2 separate regions of the Homo sapiens genome follow, and region 1 is linked to region 2. The links come from fine-mapping of genetic effects on gene expression. A gene starts in region 2. The other region holds a variant in brackets. All regions are shown on one strand. Distances are between the middles of the regions.

Region 1 (12,141 bases), 65 kb after region 2:
AACAGTTTCATTTTTAGCAATACAGAACATATCCTTCCTAAGGACAAGAATTAAATAATGACTAGATTTATCCGTAAGTTAAAAACCTAAATCTGAAAAAGCTTACCTACTCCATTATAAATAATAAATTGCCTATTTTCCCAAATATTGTGAGGATGAAGTAAGACATAGATTATTGAATGACTTTCTTTCTCAACTACACAGTTTCACTTATAGATTCAGGTAATATTATAGCCAATTAAAATGAACTACTCTAAGTTATGAGTAATCACATATCACAGTATCTATTTGGAACCAAAAGTATCAAACCACTTGTGTGGTCTTTTTTAGGGATTTAAAACATAATTCTTAGTTCATTTTTTAATAATGTATCTGAAACCTCATCTTGGAGAAATTTAATTTTCCAAGAATTAAGCATAAATATTAATGATTGCTAAGAAAGAAACTTCAACACTGCCAGATGTGTTCAGTAAGGTCGAGAGCTGCTGAGAAATGGAAATTAGGTCAATTCTTCCACTGATAAAGGTTTAGTCTCACTGCCGTTAAGATTCAGAGAGATTGGCTGGGTGCGGTGGCTCACGCCTGTAATCCCAGCACTTTAGGAGGCTGAGGCAGTTGGATCACGAGGTCAGGAGATGGAGACCATCCTGGCTAACACGGTGAAACCCCGTCTCTATTTAAAAATACAAAAAAATTAGCCGGGCGTGGTGGCGGGCGCCTGTAGTCCCAGCTACTCGGGAGGCTGAGGCAGAGAATTGCTTGAATCCGGGAGGCGGAGCTTGCAGTGAGCCGAGATCGCGCCACTGCACTCCAGCCTGGGCGACAGAGCGAGACTCGGTCTCAAAAAAAAAAAAAAAAAAAAAAAAGATTCAGAGAGATTATTGCTTCTTTTATCATGCTATAATTTAATAATTTCTCTCTAAGGAAAGGAAGTGAAAAAATGAAGATCAAATTAGTTAGGTATTCATAAAATGACGGCTTTTGTTAAGTTCCAGTGGAATAACTTGGGGTCACGATTTGGCCAGTGGTGAGATTCCCTGGGACCCTGGTTCTCTACACCCATAGACTTGATGGGGAGCGTGCTGCTCCATTTCCTCCCCAAGCCCCGAAATGGTCACCTCTATCACGGAGCTCACGTCCTCGTCACCAAAACACTGTTTTAAGAAAACCTTCTTAAAGAATTTCCACCATCTGAATGTTTTCTTCTTGAAACTTTGAGAGCTGCAACTGGACTTTACTTCCCAGGTGTGTCAGCAGCATAAGGGCCATTTCTACCCCCACGAATCCCTGGAAGTTCAGCAGTAGGATCCATTTTCTGGAATGCTGACCAGACAGAGTGCCCGGGCAGCAGTAAGCGTGGAGTGGCAGAGGAGCGCCTCGTCAACGAGGACAGCAAAAGGCGCAGAGTAGACATAGTCGGCACAGGGGAAGAACACACGTGTCAGAAGACACAGGCAGCCAGGCAAGCTGAGGAGCTCCCGGGGCCGACTCAGGGAGTCTGCTGGGATGAAGACCTCCCGAGGGCAAGACGGCCTGACCCCACTGGGTAGGAAATGGCTTTTGTATGGGCCTTTTAAGGCTTTTTAACCTTCTCCAGCAAGCATTACAGACTAAATTTCATTTAGTCTAACAGCCTGCAGGAGATATAATGCCATTTCGATGCCGCTTGTGTATTTAACTCCCTCTATTAATCTGAAACAGTGAATGTTATCAAGATGCTTCTCTGGTGACTTCAGTTTTCAGCATATTTAGGCTCTGAGAGGTGATGTCCATATCAAATCAGATTCCCAGAGATTTATATTATCTGAATTTTTAAAAATATTAACACTTGGCAGAGTGCCTGGAACAAGGTAAATGCTCAAGAAACATATGTCAAATAAATGTAGAGTGTTTTGAAAGCAAAGCTGTTATTTACTTACCTCCCTTTGTATTCTTATTGTATGCATGCAGTCGCTGCTTAGTAAATGAATTAACGAAGAATGAGCAGGTTCATGGCAAGCCAATTTCAACAGCAGTAGTCATGGAAAGGTGAAAGAATACTGGGAGGAATATCCCTGAGTAATTCTGTATGTTAGAGCTGGTGCTGATGTGGACGAGCGTTTAAACACTTAAGGTGGAAGGGGAGAAAGTGGGAGAAATTTGATCTCTGTTGAATACACACTTACCTGGTTTTATTGGGTGTTTTATTTCCAGCCAGCCAGGAAAAATTCATCTTTGTGCCTTAAATGTGTCTTAAATAAAGTCTAAGACATTTTGGAAAGTAATATATAATATCAAGCATTTCAACAACATGAAGAAATGTTTCATTTTTCTTTTTTGTCTCTGATATAATTAAAATAATGGATTATATCAGTAATGCATTTTAAAAATGAATCAAACAATTTCTCATGTTTGAATTTGAATGGTCTCAGGCTTGGAAGTATTACCTGTTTGGACTGTGTTGGGTTGGAAATTTTCAACTATTTTGACATTTCTAAAAGTGATCCTGAAGATGGTATGGACAACCATTGAGCCGCCCTGACACTCTTTCTCAGAGGTGTCAGGATCACCTTTATGAGTCACAGCTCATAATCTCAAGTGGAAATCTATATCCCTGGATCATTAGGAATCAAACAGATGGCTCCTTGTATTTTATTATTAAATGAGCACATTTTTACTATGAGGCCCAGGCTTGCTGCCTTAACGAGGTCAGACTTCTTGACAGATTGCCCTTCTGTTTCTCTCACCTTCTAGTTGACATCCCGGCTCCTCCGGCCCCATTTGATCATCGTATTGTGACAGCCAAGCAAGGAGCGGTCAACAGCTTCTATACTGTGAGCAAGACAGAAATCCTAGGAGGGTGAGTAAGGCTGAATGTTAATATTCTCTCAACAAAAGAAGAGAGCGTGCAAATGACTTCGTAAATGTCTGCCTGTCTTGACCTGAGAACTAGAAACATTAGAAACAAACATTTTAAGAAACAGTAACCATTTCTGAAAATTGTCACTGATGCCAGAAAGGTTAATGTGGTGACTAAACTCCACATTTATTATCTGCTTTACTTCCCATGTTGTAATGTCTAAAAGAAAGAAAAACCCATTGTGAGTCACCAGAAGGTTGACCAGCTGTCCAAAGCCATAGTGCAGCCTCCAGGAGACAGAAGATAGAAATGAGTCAACAGCGTGTAGTTTTTGTGGCCTGTATTAGGTCTTTCTGTCATTGCTGCTGGTTTTTCATTTATGTTGTTACTATATTAATTACTATTATTCATTTCAATTGATTACTTTGCTCAGCAAATAACTTATTTTAGGGACATTTAAACACACATTCTCCCTAAAGAAGGAAGATTAAAGGCCTTGCGCGGTGGCTCACGCCTGTAATCCCAGCACTTTGGGAAACTGAGGCGGGCAGATCACTTGAGGTCAGGAGTTCGAGACCATCCTGGCCAACATGGTGAAACCCCGTCTCTATTAAAAATACAAAAATTAGCTGGGCGTGGTGGCGCATGCCTGTAATCCCAGCTACTCGGGAGGCTGAGGCAGGAGAATCGCTTGAACCAGGGAGTTGGAGGCTGCAGTGAGCCGAGATCAGGCCCCTACACTCCAGCCTGGTGACAGAGTAAGACTCTGTCTCAAAAAAAAAGAAAAAAAAAGAAAAGAAAAAAAACCAGAAGGAAAATTAAAGTCCATCAGGGACCCGCTTCCTGCTGGGGGTGGGGAGAGGGTGTTCTTCTTCGTTTACTTCTTTCACAACCCCCCGTGATATCTTGTAACTCAAAGTCTAAATTATAACGTTTGCTGCCATCGGCATGTCTGTGTAAAATAGGAAGAGGAAAGCAGAACATCTGCACGTATACATACAAAATGTACTCACCAACACAAGGAAAGCACGCATCGCTACTGCAGTTCAGGCGTCTGCAAGTGGTCTTCAGGGAGTCCTTGATATTTGTGAAGTCCCTTCCTCCTCTTCCCACTCCGTATTTCTTTGCCCTGTGCCGAATGGAACCACCTGGACTTTCCCTTCCTGATCTGGCTGATCTCATAGAATGCCCCATGAGACTGCGGGGATGGGCTGAGGGAGAAACAGGAATTCCACAGCATGAACTGGCTCCATGGAAGCCTGAGGTATTTGGGCCTTCAGGGACATCAGTGGCAAGCCAGCAACTATTTCTCTAACCGAGAATAGTTATTTGCAGAAGAAGCTTTGAAAGAATTCCCAGGGTTTGTGCTGTTTTTCTGGTCAAGGTTTGTCAATTGCTCCTTTGAAACTTCCTTTCTGTCTGTTTGGGCACCATGGGATCTTCTCTTTGGTACTGCAGTCTAGACCAGCTGCCCGTCAGCTCTCGTTATGGGCTTCACCAAAATTGGCAGCCGTAATTCACTCAGCAAATAAGTGAGAGGAGCATGATCAAATGTGCGTGGATGCCTTCAAAATGCAGACATCACCAAGTGCTGCACCTCCTTTTAAGTGGTAGCAGGTTCAAGATGTAGCAACTTATCTTTTACTTTTGGCAGAAATATTGCAACATGCCAAGGACCACTGGATCCCAAAAACCCTGCCCACAGGGGCAGGCCCCTGAATTTTCCTGGGAGTTCGTCTCCTGCCCTGTGGCCTTGAGGGTATCCATCATCCCTGCTTGCCATGTTCAATGAGCATAAGGTTATCACTGTGTTGAACCAGCATGAATCCTGGGAGTTGGCCTCAACCTTCAGGGCCCTTGCACAATAAATCAGGGGAAAGAGTCAGAAGGTTGAGGGAGCCGGGAAGTCAGACAGTGATGGGCACCACTGCTGGCTCAGGAGGTTCTGCGGCCATTGCTAGTGAAGGGGAGAAACCATTTCCATAACAACCAATTAAGAGGTGGCTGGGGCTGTGTCCGTGTGTTCCCATAGAGACTCTATCTGGAGCAGAGGTTGGAATTGAAGTCACGCCGTGGCTACGTTTATGGTAATCCTGTGTCATTCTCCAAGATTCATCTGCCTCTGTGCTGGGTGTGCAGCCCCACAGTAGGATGCAGCGGCCGCCAGTGCCCCTGCATCTGCCCAGCGTTGCCATGACTTTCATCGCTGAAGTCCTCTGCCTTGTCATAGGGCTTGCCTCGGGTTCACTGTGTTGCTAGGGAAGCTGTTCCTCACTCCCTACTGTGACATCCACCATTGCAGAGCAGGGACACGTGTTCTAGCTTATTTTACTAAATAAGAAATCAAACTAAGCAAATTAAATTTAAAACTGCTCACAAGTGTGCACATCTGTATGTGATTACGTAGGTAAGAAGCTGTCTTGTGTTTATATTCAAGCTCATAGGTGACTTGGCAATATGCAGTCTTGACTATATGGATGTATATGCAGTATTGTTACATATGCAGTTTCCAAAAATAATTTTATATATCTGAAGGTGGGCTCTCTTGTTCATATGCTGGCAAAGCCCAGCTCATAACATTCATATGTATTCAGAAGGATTCTGCATTGTCTGTAAAGGTGGTTCTCAAATGTGAGGGTGCATATGAATCACCCAAGAAATGTGCTGAAATGCAGATTCTGGGGCCTACCCCTGGATTCCTGCCTCAGGAGGTCTGGGGTAGGGCCCAGAATCCTGGATTCTTTTTTTTTTTCTTTCTTTCTTTCTTCTTTTTTTTTTTTTTTGAGATGGATTCTTGCACTGTCGCCCAGGCTGGAGTGCAATGGCGCGATCTCGGCCCACTGCAACCTCCGCCTCCTGGGTTCACGCCGTTCTCCTGCCTCAGCCTCCCGAGTAGCTGGGACTACAGACACATGCCATCACATCTGGCTAATTTTTTGTATTTGTATTTTTAGCAGAGATGGGGTTTCACTATGTTGGCCAGACTGGTCCTGACCTCGTGATCCTCCCGCCTCGGCCTCCCAAAGTGCTGGGATTACAGGTGTGAGCCACCGTGCCCGGCCGAGACCTGCTTTCTTAACAGCTCCCAGGTGATTCTGATGCAAGTGATCCACACACCACATGTTGACAAATACTGCTCTAGAAGTTTACTGAAAGAACTCCTCAGAGGGCTGCTCATCCAGACTCAGCAGGAGAAATACTGGGGCCACTGTGCGCTGTCCACTCGGCAGCTGACCACAGGGCCTCATGCTACGCCGCTTCCTCTTTTTGGCAGAGGGCGTTTCGGCCAGGTTCACAAGTGTGAGGAGACGGCCACAGGTCTGAAGCTGGCAGCCAAAATCATCAAGACCAGAGGCATGAAGGACAAGGTACAGCCTGTGGGAGGTGGTCCCCTCCCTCCCCGCCCCATCTTGACCACACTAATGCACTGTTTCCTGCTTCTCAGGAGGAGGTGAAGAACGAGATCAGCGTCATGAACCAGCTGGACCACGCGAACCTCATCCAGCTGTACGATGCCTTCGAGTCTAAGAACGACATTGTCCTGGTCATGGAGTAGTACGTATCCCCTCCGCCCCCTCCCTGACCTCCCCAAGGGCACTCATGACCGTGACCGTGCCTCAGTAGCTCCGTCCTGCTGTAGCGGGACCAGAACCAAGCTCGCCCCCGCAGACTCTGATTCGCGCGGATCACACAATCACATCAGTTCTAGAAGGGAAACACTTGGGGTTACAAATCTCCATATGGGATTTTATTGCTAAGAAGTAGTGGGACCAAGTAGATCTAGCTTTGTATCTACGCTGTTTGTCAAAAATCAAGCTTAAATATTAGCCAGGGCAACCTGGAGGAAAGTGGTTTTTGAGCTACATCTTACTTTCAACATATTCACTAATACAAAGGTCATGTCAACAACTGGTGATGATTAGGGCTAAGAAGCTTCCATTTAAACTCACCTTTATAAAAACATAAGGACTGGTTAGTTAGAAACCGAGTACAGTCATTACTTGGTATCGGAGAGGGATTGGTCCCAGGATCCCTGCAAATACCAAAACCGGAGGACACTCAAGTTCCTGACATAAAATGGCATAGTCTTTTGCATATAACTTATGCCTATCCCCCCGAGTACTTTAAATAATCTCTAGACTACTTACAATACCTGATAAACTGTAAATGCCACATATACAGTTGTTATACTGTATTTTTTAAAAATTTGTATTATTTTTGTTGTTGTATTGTCAATTTTTATTGTTTTTTGGTCAAACATTTTGATTTACGATTGTTTGAACCTGTGGAAACAGAACCCACGAATAGGGAGGGCCGACTGCAATTCCAACACTGAATCGATATTGTGATTCCGTTTTGTTTTTCATTCCTCAATAAGGCATTTTGAATAAAAAGTATAGTATCGTGGTCCTCCCTTGCCCACACTTTCACTTTCCATGGTCTCAGTTACCCAAGGCCCCAAAATATTAAGTGGAAAATTCCAGAAGTAAACAATCAACAGGTTTTAAATTGCACACTGTTCTGAGTAGCCTGATGAAATCTCCCACCGTCCCGCTCGGTCCCACCCAGGACGTGAATCATCCCTTTGTCCAGCGTCTCCACCACTCCCTGCGGTTAGTCACTTAGTAGCCGACCGGGTCATCAGATTGACTGTGGAGGCATCGCCATGCTTGTGTTCACGGAACTATCATTTGACTTCATAATGGCCCCAAGACACAAGAGTAGTGCAGCTGGCGTGTTGTT[A/G]TAATTGTTCTATTTTACTCGTAGTTATTGTTGTTAATCCCTTACTGTGCTTAATTTATGAATTAAACTGTATCGGAGTTATATGTCTATAGGAAATAACATAGTATATACAGGTTCAGTACTATCCACAGTTTCAGGCATCCACGGAGGGTCTTGGAAGGTGTCCCCAAGGATAAGGGAAATTACTGTGTCTAGCACCAGCCACAGAGAAGCACTTTATCCCTGAATTCAGTCTGGAGACTTAGAGGGCTGAGACCCTGACTACCTTCAGTCAGGGCTTGGAGTTCCCCTCCTGGAGTTCTTAGGATCCTCTTTCTCTTCAACATCTTTAGAACATGATACATGTGGGCTCACCCCAGAGCTGAAGACACTGAATAAAGGGGCTTTGAGGGCCGGTGTGGTGGCTCCCACCTGTAATCCCAGCACTTTGGGAGGCCGAGGCTGGTGGATCACTTGGGGTCAGGAGTTCGAAACCAGCCTGGCCAACACAGTGAAACCCATCTCTACTAAAAATACAAAAATTAGCCGGGCATGGTGGCGCATGCCTCTAATCCCAGCTACTTGGGAGACTGAGGCATGAGAATCGCTTGAATCTGGGAGGCGGAGATTGCAGTGAGCCAAGATCCTGCCACTGCCCTCTAGCCTGAGCGACACAGCGAGACTCCATCTCAAAACACACACACACACACACACACACACACACACACACACACACAAAAAGGTGGGGAGTTGGCTTGAGGATTTCCATTTGTGAGATTAAAGGTATATAAAATACAGGCCTTCAAGATAAGAATCATCTAAGTAAGATAGTAAAGAAGGCAGAGAAATAACTGCACATACACCTTTCAGAAGAGGTAGCAGAACTTGCACGACAAGTCACTACGAGAAAAGCACATGGTGGTAAGGAAATCGGGACTGAGGGTTTCAGTCCTCTTCCCTCTGCAGTGTGGATGGTGGGGAGCTGTTTGACCGCATCATCGATGAGAGCTACAATTTGACGGAGCTTGATACCATCCTGTTCATGAAGCAGATATGTGAGGGGATAAGGCACATGCATCAGATGTACATTCTCCACTTGGACCTGAAGGTAAGGGTGTTTTGTATCCTGTGAGACGTAAGCCCTTCCCAGCTCTTGCACAGTGGGCCCTGTCTGCTATTATATGCCAGCTGGGGAAATTGGTACAGTCATTTCAGAAATGAATAAACATCTGAATTGTTACCCTCATCTCCTTATTCTCAGCTTCTGTCACTCCCTAATATTTGCATGTTCCATCTTCAGGGGTGATATTCAGATTCTTGTAACTTGCCTGCGTTAAGGAAATCTATATGGCAATGGTTTCCCTAAAAGTTTAGAATGAAAACAGTCACCACCACCACAGCGGTATCCACGTGGTAGCCCTCTCATCAGGACAAGTAGGTGAGAGGATTTTAGCTAACTCAGAATTCCCTAAGTAGTAGTCAACCTTTCCAGGTCTCCAAGAATCGCCGGCAGCTCCTCGAGTCACTCAGGAAGCTCCAGACTTTGGGACTTGTTTTTCTGTGGGTTTGCTGCCCTGTGGAATAGAATCCTATGGAGAATGCAGCAGAGGACAGTCGGAAGGATGGGGCCAAAGTGCTAAGGAGAAGAGAGGGTGGGGTGGGCACCCCACTGCCAATGGTGGAAAGCACACAGAAGCCAAGCCGCCTTTCTTTCTCCTCCTATTGATTGCCCCTTCCCTCTTTACCTCTCTCATGTCTCATTATGAAGTTCCTAGAATCGGACTGTATGTAGTCTTAGTTACAACCAATAAAAGACCTAGGCCCAACAACCCTGATCAAGTCCCATATTGGGACTAAGTATCATAAAGTACGTCTTGTGTGGCTTGGTCATTTTCTCATTTCCCTGTTTGCACAGCGTGACAGTAACATAAAATATACAATCTATATAACATCCCATCTATTGCATTCACTAGGGATTGCATAGCTAAATAAATTTAGCCTCCTGAAATAGGTTTCCATGGGCCTCTCTTCCTATAACTTGGCTTCCCTCACTGTCTTGATTTATGTGCCTTGCCTTTCCCATTCACTTTTGAGCAGGAGGAGAGCAGGAGGAAGTGGTTTATAAAATGACAAAGTCAGAGGCTAAAAATCATTAGCAAAACCCTCACTATGAACTGAGTTTGATAATGCATGCTTTCATGGAGCATTTTCATTGAATGTAGATATTCTGCAGATATCCCTACAGGGATTTGATTGGCAACTGGAACTAGGAGCAAACCTATTGTAAGTCAAATGACTCCATATGAGGCTTCATAACATTGATTGAGGACCTGCAGTGGGCAGTTTTAGTTATGGCTTGGATGCAGAGATCATCATAAAGGTGACAGCTGGATGGGTCCTTAAGGAGCTGCTTTTCTGAAAGCTCCTTGGAAGGAAAAGGGCCAAAAATATTGAGTGATTGTCAGTATGTGGGGGGAGATTATAGGTGACTTACAAACAGTCTGTTTTATATTTTTCTGTTTTGCAAAATTTATCCAATGAACATTGTTTAATTTTATCGTCATAAAAAGGCTAACTTATTGAAATGCCCTCAAAACGGTTTCTCTATATCCTGCAAACTTTTTGATGCCACAGTACTCCTTCACAATTGGACAGCTTTATACATGATCCATCAGTGATTTAAGCATGAAACCAAATGGTTCACGTAGCACCCCCTTCTCTATAATGACTTTTACTCACAAACATCTGTTTTAGAGATAGTTTAGAAAAGGGCTTCCAAAGATATTCTGCCCAACCAAATGTACTATTGAATATTGATAAGGAGACATTATGTCATTTCATAATGTGTTTCTGAATTTCTGATCTCATTGGAACCTCTTCTCCACCTGGACAGGTTGGGGAGGGGAGCCTGATCCCACTAAAGGCTGAGGAACGGGATCCTGGGCATTTGGCTTCTGGGATGGTGCCCTCCAGCTTGTAAAGAATTGGGACTGAGGGTTCTTAACTCTGAAAACTTTTTTTCTCTTTTATAAATGGCCTTGACTTTAAATCAAATCTCTTACTTTCCCAAGACCTCTGTTTTTCTACCCCAGTAAACATTAGGTGCACTTGTAAGGCATTCTGTGAACACTGAGTGGCTGCACTACACCCCATTTTCTCCCCCTGCACCCCAAGACTGTCAGGTCAGCAGGCTAAGGTCTTACCAGGGCCTAGCTCCAAGGGAACACTTAGTCAGGGGTTTTAGGCATTGAGACCAAACTCAGCAAAACCTTGGAACTGCTGAGACTGAAGAACGACTGGAGAGAAAAGCCCTCCTCTGCCGTGCGACTTTCCCATAGGCGTTGAGCAAAGGGAAGCTCTGGAGGCCGGAACGTTCACGTGACAGTGCATGTTCAGTGTGGCTGTTTGAATGGAGCAGGTCAATTCCCTTGGAACTCATCAATCTTGGGAAAAATATTTCTCCAAGAAGGGGAAATTCATACTGAATAATTTAGAGGGGCAGATGTCAGGCCTGAGCGGGCCTCCACAGCACATTTGGGAAGGACTGAAGCAACCTCCTTTTCTTGCTCCCCTCAAGGCCTCTGCCTGAACTCAGGCATTATGGTGAACTGTGAAGCCGTGCAGAGGACAGGCTGGATAATGCAGGGTTGGCAGGATACCCGCAACCTCATCCACCACATAATTAAAGGAGAAAGTACCCACACGGACAAGCCCGCCCCGAAGTGAAAGGCCTGATATGTTTTTTCTGAGCATCGTTGTATTTTTAGTTGTGGTTCAAGGACAATTTGAGTGAATGATGGTTGTTTTCATTGCTAATGTGTCTCTTTCTCCTGGCAGCCTGAGAATATCCTGTGTGTGAATCGGGATGCTAAGCAAATAAAAATTATTGATTTTGGATTGGCCAGAAGGTATGTCTATTTGGACATAGGTGTACGAATGGAGCTGGGGGACATGATGGTTGCCCTTCCTTTGCAAACATATATCTGATCTGCTCTTTGGTTTCATGATCTCATTTATAATTAATTTAACAAAAATTATGTTTGGCCTTAACTTGCTAAATTTGAGACTTGAGTGTTTAGAAGTTTCTATAATGCATGCAGTAAAAAGTATAAAAAATTAAAACCTAATACAGTGAAGTTTATTAAATTAGAAGCCATTAATTTAGCATTTGCAAGAGTTTGTCCCCTCTTTCATATTTGATCCATCTGTACAGAGAAGATTTACTTTAAAAATATTAACAACGTAAGCAAGTTTGCAAAGGGTTCTGGCACATAAAAGATTCTTCAGGGAACAAAGAGTTTACGTGGACACATTAACAATTCAGCACATTAACGACACATATAAAATGGATGTTGTAAATTATTGCAGTACTGTGTTTATTCATTTTACAGGCTTATTCACATCATCCCCATGTCAATGACTATATCAGTTTTCCTCTTGTCATCTTCTGTAATTCAGATGTTCTCATTATTCACAGCAGCTTCTCCAACAACTGGTTCAGCTTTTAAGGTTTCCTAGTATGAATTTTGACTTTTAAATTTTCTGGGGCCTCTTTACAAGTTTTTGAGCCTCTTGCTTGA
Region 2 (12,141 bases):
CGGAAATAATCCTATGGTGTTGGTTTGGAAATAGAAATATATCAGTATGAGTGTGAACTCATGATTTTTTAGAAAGAATTATATTTCCTCTCTCTGTCCTCTGAAGTGTCTACAGTGACACCCCCGTAGCAAAAAACACTCCTGGTGCCCAGGGCTTGATTTCTAAATACCATTCTGCCTAAGAGGAAGGAGGGCTCCTTGAAGAAATGGCAGAATTCAGAAACAGGGTGAAAACAGTACTGAAAGTAAGGAAGTACTCAAAAAATAATAATGACATATCAAAAGTACATAGGAGCCAGCTTGAAGGCACTTCCGTTGGCCAATATGGGACAATTTGAGCTTCAAAATAAAGAATATAGGGAGTGTATGTCCATTTTTAAAAGGCCATAAGCTCATCCTGATACTAAAGAGAGTGAGGTTCAGGATGGGGATGGAAAGCTCTTCTTTATAAAAGAATACCAATTAATAAGTATAGAAGAAATGGCAGAATTAGAAAATCATTTCACAGTCTCTGTGGTAATCATTGATTCTCAAGAATAGATACTGAGAAACGTTGGGTGATGCATTGTTGGGGAACATGATACCTATAAATTCCCACAAGTTATTTATCAATCACAAAAATAAAAGGGTTAGTTTTACATTTGAGAAGTCTGGTGGACACAACCTTAATCAGATCACCAAATTTAATATCACGAATAATGGCACAAACCGACATCATGTGCCACCTTTTGTGATGTTCTGAAAAAGATACAGTGTCACTTCTGTAGTTTTCATGCTCAGGTATAACCTGGTTCCAAGCATGAAGACACAATCAGGAAATTAGAATTGAGAGACATTTTATGAAACAATTTGTCCAAAGACTTCAAAAATATCAATGTCATGAAGGATTACAAAAAAGAGAGAGAGACTAGGAAGCCTCATCTCCACAAAAAATACAAAACTTAGCCTGGTGTGGTGGTGCCTGCCAATAGTCCCAGCTACTTGGAGGGCTGAGGCAGGAGGATCACTTGAGCCAAGGTCAAGGCTGCAGTGAGCTGTGTTCACGCCACTGCACTCCAGCACAAGCAACAGAGTGAGACCTTGTCTCAAAAAGTAAAATAAAATAAAATAAACGGAATGACCATTTCCTAAATAGATAAAAGGAGACTAAGAAGACATGGTGATTAAATGCGCTATGTAATTTTTGAGTAGATTCTGTTATGTGAGAAAGTGTCTTTTTTCTCAAGAAACATACACCAATTCATATAGGGGTAAAGTTTCATGAGATATGCATCTTACTCGCAAAAGAGAGAGAGAGGGCAAACATGGAAAATGCTAACATTTGGTGAATATGGGTGAAGGATGTATAGGTATTCATTGTACTATGCTTGCAAATATCCCTTAGAAAGTTTAAGGGATATAATTAAAGGAACAATTTGTGTAGCCACTGTAGAGGTAATAAACTGAAACTTTATGTAATATTTCTGAAAAATATTAATTTTTAAATGATCCAATCCATATTTTTATCTAATTTTTAAAACCTGTTTTATTTTCATTTTTGTATTTCGTAATACTTAGCTAATTGCTGTCACTTAGAAGTTTTAGTGGTCTAATATCAAAATTTCCTGTAAAGAAATCTGGATATTCCATAACATCATTATCTTTCTTGCTCAAAGTATCCTATCTCCAAGCAGAAAATAAAAGATAGAAATTACTTTTAAAATTACTATTAATTTTTCTATTAATTACAAAATCTTATATTGCATGATATTCATGCCAGGAGAAGAAAAGCGTGAGACTCTTAACTGTCTCCTGCTCACCATTCCTTTTCTTTGGCCCTAGGTGACCTGGCAAGTGTGGAATATAATTTATGTTTCCCTGGATCCCAGCCTTGGTCACTGGGGACAGATGACCACAAAGTGTTCAGTTTTTTCCTCTCCTTTTAACAAGCTACTTTTTGTTAATCATATTATTGGGTTTTCTTTTTCTTAATGACTCTATTGAAGTATAATTTACATATTATAAAATTCACCCATCTCAAGTGCACAATTCTGCATTGTTTTAAGAAACTGAATGAGTTGTACAGTCATCACTACCACACATCATCGGGTAAGATTCTGTTTACAATTAACCCCCATTCCTGCACCCAGCCCCCGGCAACCACCAGTCTGCTTTCTACGTCTATAGATTTGTCTTTTCTGAGCATTTTATACAAATGGAATCATACAATCTGTGCTCTATGTTTCTGGCTTTTTTTTTTCAATTAGCACAGTGTTTTCGCTCATCCATATTGTAGTAGATACCAGTATTTCATTCCTTTTAATTACGTAGTATTCCATTTGTATGTGTATACCACATTATCTTTTCCCAGTCTCCAAATCATCCGATGGACATTTTGGTTGTTTTCAGTTTTTGGCTATTGTGAATAATGCTGCTGTGAACATTCATGTGCCATGGTTTCTGTGTTCATATGTTTTCATTTCTCTTGGGTAGATACCTAGGAGAAGAATTTCTAGGTCATATGGGAAATAACTTTTTAAGAAATTGCCAACCTCTTTTATAAGACACCTGTATCATTTTATATTCCCATCAACATATTTGGTGAGGGTTCCAGTTTTTCCACATCCTTGTCAACACTTGCTTTTCTCTGTCTTTTTTTTTTTTTTTTTGGTAGAGATGGGGTCTTGCTATGTTGCCCAGGCTGGTCTCAAACTCCTGGACTGAAGTGATCCTCCTGTCTTGGCCTCCCAAAGTGCTAGGATTACAGGTGTGAGCCACCACACCCAACCTATCTTTTATTTTTTTCATTATTATTACAGCTCTCCTAGTGGGTGTGAAATGATGTTTCCTTGTGGTTTTAATTTGCATCTCCCTGATGACTGATTTTGAGCATTTTTTTTCATGTGCTTATTAACCATTTTTATATCTTCTTTGGTGAGGTCTGTTTTAATCTTTTGTCCATTTAAAAAACTGGAATGTTTTGTCATATATTATTAAGTTGTATATGCTAGATGCAGTCCTTTGTCAAATATGTGACTTCACAGTATTTTCTATACATCTGTAGCTGGTCTTTTCATTTTCATAATAGTGTCTTTTCATTTTCCTAATAGTGTTTTTTCAAAGGCAAACGTTTTGAATTTTGAAGAAGTGCAATTTATCAATCTTCGTTTTTATGGGTCGTATTCAGTGGTGATTTTTGAAAGTAAGGAAGTTCTATTGTAATGTGGGTAACAGGGATGCAGTAGCTTTTTATTTGCATTTGGGTATTTGTACTGTTGCTCCGCTTTTGTGTGTAAACATTCAAGAGGTCTTGTTCTGGAAACATTCAGAACGCTGTGTAGAAACAAAAACTCTTAGTGTAATCCAGCCGGGTTTCAATGCCAACCCGTAGACAAGAGCTGTCGACGATGTTTCTTCATGTGGCTCCTTTGACAACACAGTCTCTTACTCAGCTAATGGAAATGTCCCTTGAAAAAAATCAAGGGATTCTTTTCCATGGCTCTGTAGGGTGCTGTTTTCCTGATGTTGGTATTTTTTAGAGAAGTATAACTCCAAAATATGGAAATACTGGAAAAGTGTTCCTGGGCCTGCTCATATTCCTCACTAATGAATTTTTCCGGGTATAAGAGCATCTTTAAGCATGCAGAACATTTTATGGGTATGGACTTAGGATCCTGAGGCTAGGCTGATAGACCAGAATGAGTATGCATGTATAACCTGTTTTTTTGTGGTCAAGGGTTGTGCCAGCAGTGTGCTTGTCCTGTATGCCATCGGAAGCTGGGAACAGTGTGATGCAGCAGAACCAGACAATCAGTCACTTTTAGCATGGATTATTTTAATTGACTTGCTTTTTAGGGCAAGTAGACACAATTAAAGATCATTCTATCTAGTCATTAATCAAATATGTATTGAATGTATATTGTGCATGGAAATGTCTATATGTGGATGCCTTCCAAATTCTTATCTCCAGCCTACACCCCTCCCCGGAACTCCAGTTTCTATCTCCACAGCCTATTCAACTTGAACGTTTAATGGACTTGCCAAAGACTTCATGCCTGACCTTTCCCTCCAGAGTTGCCCTTCCCACAGCCGTCTCCATCTCAGTTAATGTTCACTCTGTCTTTCAAGTGCTCAGAAGAAAATATGCAAAGGTGTCTACCATCTTTCTTTCATACCCCATACCCAATCTATCATAAATCCTACTGATTCTAAATGTACTGTGGAATCCTGCATGGGATTCTGGAACAGAAAAGGGGCATTTGGGGAAAAAAAAAACCCAGCAACAATAAAGTATTGAGTTTAGTTAATAATAACGTTCACCATGGTTCATTAATTGTGACAAGTATACCATACCAACGTAAGATGTTAAAAACAGAGGATTCGGGGTGCAGGGCAAGGGGAACTCTGAACTACCTTTGCACCTTTTCTGTAGATGTAAAACTACTCTAAAAGGAAAAGTTTATTACAAAAAAATAAGCTAAGGAGCAGATTCTCCTGGCCTCTGGCTCACTCAAGCCTGTGGTTGGTTTGCTGGAGCCAACGAGATAGGAAGTCTGCTTTTGCGTGGTGGTGGTCCGGGTGGAGGATGTGGTTGGATCAGCAGCAGCCCACACACATCTTGCCTCTGGCAGGGCATTTGTTGCCTTATCAGTACTTCTACACAATTTAATTATACTAACAAAATTGGTAACCTCAAACCAGCTTAGTCTTTGTATAATACTTTTGTCAGATAATTTATCTCCACAAATTTATAGTTCCACTTCATTACTTTTGCTGAAGAACAAAGCTCTCCAATCTGAAAAATAACAAGCGTTTTGTGTTTTAAAAAAGATTTTGCTGTAATTCATTAATACTACATAAAATGGAAAAATATGTATTTTTATTTCACATGGAATGCATCGATCTGAATTAAAAATAAGGTTTTTTTTTTAAAAGAAGCAGAAGAGCAGCAGAGGCTGGTGTTAGAATGGGGCATAGAGGGGCTAACACAGGCTCCAAATAAGAGGTGACAATTGGCCAGGCCCTGAAAAATTGCAGGGTTTTCAAGACTGCAAAGTCCAGCCTCTGGGCAATCAAAGTTTTATGCCACTTCAGTGAATCTAGGGATGCACTACTGTGAGAGTCGGGCAGGTGGGTTGAAATTCCCCTTTCTTGGTCTGTGCAGAAAACTACGGATGAAGTCCTAGTGTTGCTTAAGGAGAATTTATGAAAAATTTATTCCTGTTTCCTGGATGCCTGTGCCTTTGACCTTTCCCTAGAGCTAGAAATGGTTGGAGACTTTGCAAACATCTTTAAGAACTGAGAAAAATAAAACAAACTTGCTAACTGCTTTCAGAAGATCTTCTATATTGCAGTTGGATATGCTCAAAGCGTAAGATGGGCAAACAGAGGTGGCTGTGGGGTTGCCACACCTGGCATTTTCCCTACTGGGGGAAATTTAATGAGCACTTAAATAATCCTGAGTCTGAAAGGGGCAGAAGGTCCAGGCAGATGATTGCCGAGGACAAATCTAGCTTTGTAAATCCGAGAGTATTGACACAATGATACGAGGGAAAGGTGAAGGTGATATTTCATCCAGTGTTCCCGGTTCATCCTCTCCTTACCTGACCTCTGAAATGGAGCCATTGGCCTTGAAAAGCCTGGTGTCTAAAATTAATATTCTTCCCCATCTGACTAAGAAGGCAACAGCTGAGCAACGTGAGATCAAGAGCCATATTAATTTAAACAGGGGCTGAAAGTGGCATTTGAGAGAGAAGATACTTCCTCTCGTAGTGGACACTTGTCTTTTCAGAAGATTTATACGACTGAGAGTCAAAACTTTTACCAGAGACTTTCATAGTCAGTTTGAATTCTGCAAAATTTCTCTTTATCTTCTGGAATGTATGCTCTAGACTTGGAGTGGCTCAAGCTCTTCGATGTGATCCTATCAATGGTAATTATCTTTGTTTATTGTTATAACCTCTCAAATCTCCTCCCCTTTTTTCTAAGTTACCTTCAATAACAAATTGTACCAAACTTCAGGTAGAGCTTAATGTTTAATATTTCTTTGCAAAATTATTGTATCTTAATCCTAAGCTTTTGTTTTAATACATTAATTTTGTGTGGCTTCCTGATCCAACTTGAGTTTCATCTGCAATTAACCATAGTATTTTAGTCGTAGTTTGCCTTAGAAATAGCCATGCATTTGTTTCCTTATTTTAATAATTTTTTCAGGGCAATTTGAAAGAATGCTAAGAATGATCTGTAATATATCTGTAGAGCTCTGGTTGATAGTATTAATATTTGCATTTTTATTTGTTTGAATGTAAGCTCTTTATGTGGATAAGTATAATTTGTTAGAGCAGTGAATTTTAAACACTTTGGAACTCAAGAGTATCATTTTACTATAGGAACTGACAAAACAAAATATTAAGTTTTCTGATGAGAATCACAATACGGTTTTTAAGCGGAGAAAATGCTCGAAGAGGCGCTTTTCGGAAAATCTCCACCAGGGGGCCTCAGTTGTCAGCCATGCGGAACTAGCACAAATTCAAATGTCTCTCCCTCTCCCTGCCTCTCTATGCAATCAAGTGATGTGTACATATAGACATGCGTATATGTCTCTAGTATCAAAGCGAATTATGTATGCTGCATTACTTCATTTGCGAGGAAAGTATTTTAAGGAGAGTGAAAAGACTCTGAACTTCTCGGTACATAGCTGTTAATGCAGATGCAAGGAAAGGTATCTGGGAGTGCTGTCCACGTGAGAAGACTGTAAGGAAATAAATTTCTTTTCACAAATAAACACCACACATTTTAAGGCATAGGTAGAGAAGAGTTCTGGAAAAGGACTCATTCGGGAGCGATCCCTCTGCAGAGGGAGGCCAGGGGAAGCAGAGAGACCCCTTCTGTGATAAGCCCTTCCCACGGGGCTGCAAAACCTGCGGTTCCAATTAAACCCAAAGATACTTTATAATTTACATCCAAGCTGGCCACTTGATCTACGGCTTGTTTTGTGCAATAAGGAGCATATTTCATCACCAGTGAATCTTGACATTGCTTCTTACTGTTTGCTTTTGTAGTTTTAAAGTGAAAAAATTTTTTTTCCTTTTAAAGTTCCAATGTTGGAAACTCAATATGAATGTTAGTATTTCTTTTCCTGATTTTGGATCCTCTCTCCAGTTTAAACAGAAGGGACTTCCAAATTCTCACTGGTCATTTTCTCAAGAAGTCAAATGCATGAATACGTGATGAGAACTTTTTGTGTTTCCTTTCTTTGCAGTCAAGAGAAAGAAGCACTGAAGAGTCATAATTGTGTCCTGATTTATAAATCGGAGACAGAGGGAGACGAAAACCACACTCCAGAAAGTAGCTTAATCGGACTCACTACTAAGATGTTAAAAGTGAAGAGGCTGGAAGAATTCAACACGTGTTATAACAGCAACCAGCTGGAGAAAATGGCCTTTTTTCAGTGCAGGGAAGAGGTGGAGAAAGTGAAGTGTTTTCTGGAAAAAAATTCTGGGGACCAGGATTCAAGATCTGGACATAATGAGGTAATCATGTTCTAATTTAGTCTCCTAAAAAGTATTCATTCTATCTTATCTTTTCTAATGTCATGGAGCCGCTTGTGAGTACAATTAAGGAAAGTTTATGAATAGGCATCATTCCACTTTGCTTCAGTGAGAATTGTGTGTGTCGACTATACAATTGTGTTTGGTAAATAATTAGGAGGCCTTTGAAACTGCATTTCTGCCAGCAGTCGACTTCACTTTTAGTTAGTGGCTTAGGAGTTATACAGCCAGCTTGCAGAAATGAAGAAGAATCCTTTAGCATGATGGATTTGGGCTTGAAATTCAGAAAAGGGCTCTGAGAGGCACACTGTTCTGCAGAAAGAAGTTTCTCCTTTTTCCTTCAGATCTTGAGTTCCTCACGCGGTAGACAGCAGAGCTGTTGATAGTGAAGTCCAGAGAAGGGACAAGAAAGACTTGCTGATGGCACGACGGTGGGGCTTGTACCCTCCTCTGTGCAGAACGAGAGTTCTGAGCCCCATTCCAGCTGCTCGTTCTTGGGAAAAATATTAATTTAACCAAGGGCTTGCCACATCTGAATTAGTGAGATAATAGCAATTGTGAAAATTAAGTGTGATCACGTCTGTAAAGCACTCCGCCTAGTATCTGTCACTAGAGTCAGCATTTAATATGTGTTAGCGGCAGCAGCAATTACCTCCCCTGCCTTGGCCCAGTCAGTTCCTGCCCATCATCCGTTGGCTCCTTGCCCGGTGGGAGCATCAAGCATTTTGCCCGTGCCTTCATTCCAGCACATGTGGTGGTTTTGAACATGTTGATCACCTTTCTCTAGACAAGGCTCCTTAAGGTTGGGAAACCTCGTGTTATTTGTTCATGTTTCCTCAGTTGCTTTCCTAGTAACGGAAACAAATAGGCACCAAAAGTGTTTTTGGAATGCACAGATCTATTTAAGTGAATTCTGGTTGAGGGCTGGGAACCATTATTTTTGATAATCAGAGCAAGTGATTCTTATCAGGCAGGTTTGGAAAACATCCTTCTTTGCCCAGCTACTGTTCTAAAAAACACTATTCAGGTAGGAAGGGCGTTTCTAACAATGCAATAGACAATGAAATAGAGAGATTGTATATAAAAGGTCTAGGAGGCTTTTTATTGTAAGTGAATAAGAAATGACAAAATGTGCTGGAGAGAATAAATGAATCAGATTGAAACATTTTTTTGAGACCTCTGCTTTCCCCATGAGTTCAATATAGACCAAGGAGAAATATCTACAGGCAAAATTAAGTGAGACATGACTTTCTCATTAGGGTTTTCAGTGGTACAAACAGGATAATTTTTTCTGTTTATTAATTTCGGTAGGACAGAGAAGACAAAATATTCTTCTTGGAGAACTTTGAAATCATCAACTAACTGTAATAGTTTATATGAATTTCATTATCTTTCAAGTACTGTTTTTCTCCAAAATCTATGATACAATTTTTATAAATGGGCAACACTCTAAAGAGTGAGATAAGCAGGACACATGGCTCATACCTGTAATCCCAGCACTTTGGGAGGCTGGGGCAAGAGAATCACTGGAGGCCAGGAGTTTGAGACCAGCCCAGGTGACATGGTGAGATGTCTATTTCTACAAAAATAAAAAAATACAAATAAAATAGCGGGCATGGTGGCACACATCTGTAGTCCCAGCTACTTGGGAGGCTGAGGCAGGAGGATTGCTTGAGCCCGGGAGTTCAAGGATGCAGTGAGCTATGATCACACCACTGCACTCCAGCGTGGGCAACAGAGGAAGACCCTGTTTCTGAAGATAAAAAAAAAGAGTGCGATAGTGCTAAGTTGGAACATAAATATATGTAGGGATGTTACTTTTGTGCAGCCAACTACATCCAGAAGTTGATGATTTGGAAGTTAAATATTTTTAGGGTGTTTTTGAGGGAAAAATTGAGACTGCTATTTAACCCCTAGAAACCATCAGAGAATGTCCTTTATAGTAAGTCTCATATCCCTTCTGTAACTTGGGCCTCCTGGCTTCCGTCCTGCAGTTGACACCCTGTGGAAGGTGGGAAGGAATCACTAGGAGCTCCATGTGTCCCATTCAATTTCTTACTTGTAAATGGAGAAGGGCCTAGAGATGTCTGCAATAAATTTCCCTGTCTCTCTCCGTCCACGTGGAGAATGGATAGGTGCATGTGTCAGAGGCACAGAGTTCTCCTTTCCATGGCCTGGAGCCCCTGCCTGCCTAGTTGGTGGGTGCCAGGGCAGCCAGCAGGCTTGGCAGCGGGTGGGTGGAGAAGGACATTCCAGCAGCTCAGATGTCTTCAGGTATGCAGACAGAGCTAGATTAACACGTCTTCATCTTCTGCTGGGGCAGCAGTAAATCTTTAAAATGCCACGCTTTTCTCTCCAGGGACTATAAAAACATGCTTGTCGATTTTCTCCACCTATTCCCCTTTCTCTCTCATCCCTTCTCTCTTTGAGGGGATTAGCACGGCTAATCATAGTAGAAACATCCCCTGTGGTGCACTGGAAAGAATGTACTCTGAATTTCAGACTCTGGTGACATGAAAGCTTTGTTCTGGAAGCTTGCAGTGCAGTTTCTTTAGAGTCTGGAACTACTCTCCAGTCCCAATAGGGGAAGAATTTTATATAGATTTAACAACTTATATTTGTTAAAATAGTTTGATAAAACTCAGATTCTTTTTGTTTTCCTGCTCTTAATCAGATTTTTCTATTTCTTTTATTTTTCTTCTACTGAATTCATTTTTAGCCATCTTCCTTCTTTCCTCTATGTTTTACTGAGTTTATGAAACACTTCATAGCCTTCTTTTCTTCCTTCTACTTAAGTAGTTCTTGTTCTTTTAATTTTTCTTTCTTTCTTTTTTTCTTTTTTTCTTTTTTTGAGACGGAGTCTTGCTCTGTCACCCAGGCTGGAGTGCAGTGGTGCGATCTCAGCTCACTGCAACCTCCGTCTCCCAGGTTGAAGCAATTCTCCTGCCTTAGCCTCCTGAGTAGCCGGGATTACAGGCGCACGCAACCACGCCTGACTCATTTTTTTTTATATTTTTTTTTGTATTTTTAGTAGAGACGGGGTTTCACCACATTGGTCAGGCTGGTCTCAAACTCCTGACCTCATGATCCACCTGCCTTGGCCTCCCAAAGTGCTGAGATTACAGGCGTGAGCCACCGTGCCCGGCCTTGTTCTTTTAATTTTTCTTGTTTGTTTGTTTCTTTTTTTTTTTTTGAGACAGCTTCTCACTCTGTCGCCCAGGCTGGATTGCAGTGGTGTGATCTCAGCTCACTGCAGCTTTGACCTCCCTGGCTCAAGTGATTCTCCTGCCTCAGCCTCCCAAGTAGCTGGGACTAGGCATGCACCACCACCCATGGCTACTTTCTGTATTTTTTTGTAGAGACAGGGGTCTCCATGTGTTGCTCAGACTGGTCTTGAACTCCTGTGCTGAAGTGATCCTCCCACCTTGGCCTCCCAGAGTGCTGGAATTACAGGCATGAGCTGCTGTGTGTGGCCTATTTTTCCTACTTTCCTTTTTATTCTGTTTTCTAATGACTTTTCTTATTCTATTATGTTCCAAAGGCTGTTCAAAATCACCTAAATTCTACCTACTGTGTAAAATTTTAAAAGTTTTCAGCAGATAACCATATGCCATAATAAACTAGATCTAAACATACGTACACGGTGTGGTGTTGAAATCAAGTAAAATTTACAAGACCAAATTGGTCTGACTCATATGAGTGATGAGCTCGATAGCTACTGTGTCCATACCATTAAGTTATAAATGATGAACAGGTTTCATAACTATAATTAGTATTATTTTTGTACAGTTGAATCTGGGTTTTTTTTCTTTTGTCAGTTCTCTGTTATCTATATAGTAAATAGCCCTCGTGTTGTATTTCCCCCAGATTTACTTGAATATTTAGTAGGATCTCTGTCTCATATACACCCCCACACCCCTTTGCTTAATGAAACACAAATGTGCCTGGTGATATTCTCAGCCAACCATTCGGCCCTGCGTGCTTCTCACTGCTTTCCTCGGTGTACCACCCCCATCCCTGCTCCTGAGGCCCGGGGTTGTCTGTGCTCTCCTCCTCCTCCGTTGGTTTTCCCCACCTGCCTGTTCACCCCTAGTTACTCATCCTCCATCCAAAAGGCATGGTCCCAAGTATAAAAGTAGGACACAGGTTGTGAATGCTCACTCTACAAAAATATGTCAGCATAGCCCACCGTTCCACATCCGCGCCTGGAAGACCCCTAAGCAAATCATTTCTGAATTTATCCTAACCCTTGTTGATTTGTGTTTGAAAGCCTTCCTTCATAGGGAATAATTCCTTTTTAAAACCTGGCTTAAGTTCTTCCATATCCCAACCAGGGGGTATCCCAAAGCTGTGGGGGTAGAAACAAGCATGGCCCCAGCAGACTCGGGACCCCACTGTCCCTGGAGTGTTTAAATGCCCGGTACAAATGCTCCCAAGACCAAGCAAAGCAAAATATTTATTAACAGGATGTGCAGAGGGACAGTGGGTTGGAGTAAAGTGTGGATTTTCCTATTTTGATTGCAGTTGGTGGATTTAACACCAGGTGGCATTTCCTGACCATCTGCTGTGAAATTGTACCATCAGCACCATCCGTAATGACTATAACTTAGAT

What was found. PIP is the estimated chance that this variant, and not a neighbour inherited with it, causes the effect.
Region 1: its variant is fine-mapped to the expression of MYLK4 in subcutaneous fat (TwinsUK, PIP 0.95).

The regions. Positions count from the first base shown.
Region 1 is chr6:2,679,549-2,691,689 of GRCh38, reverse strand. MYLK4 (myosin light chain kinase family member 4) reads left to right here. Exons shown (of 13, transcript NM_001012418.5): 4 at 2,734-2,839; 5 at 6,114-6,207; 6 at 6,285-6,394; 7 at 8,528-8,669; 8 at 11,399-11,469. Among named protein-coding and RNA genes, the nearest start is that of LINC01600, 51 kb to the right of the region's middle. The variant A/G (reference allele first, on the strand shown) is at 7,583.
Region 2 is chr6:2,744,506-2,756,646 of GRCh38, reverse strand. It overlaps MYLK4 (myosin light chain kinase family member 4), which reads left to right and starts at 5,725. Exons shown (of 13, transcript NM_001012418.5): 1 at 5,725-5,911; 2 at 7,241-7,511. The coding sequence starts at 7,353. RefSeq lists a silencer at 3,858-4,152.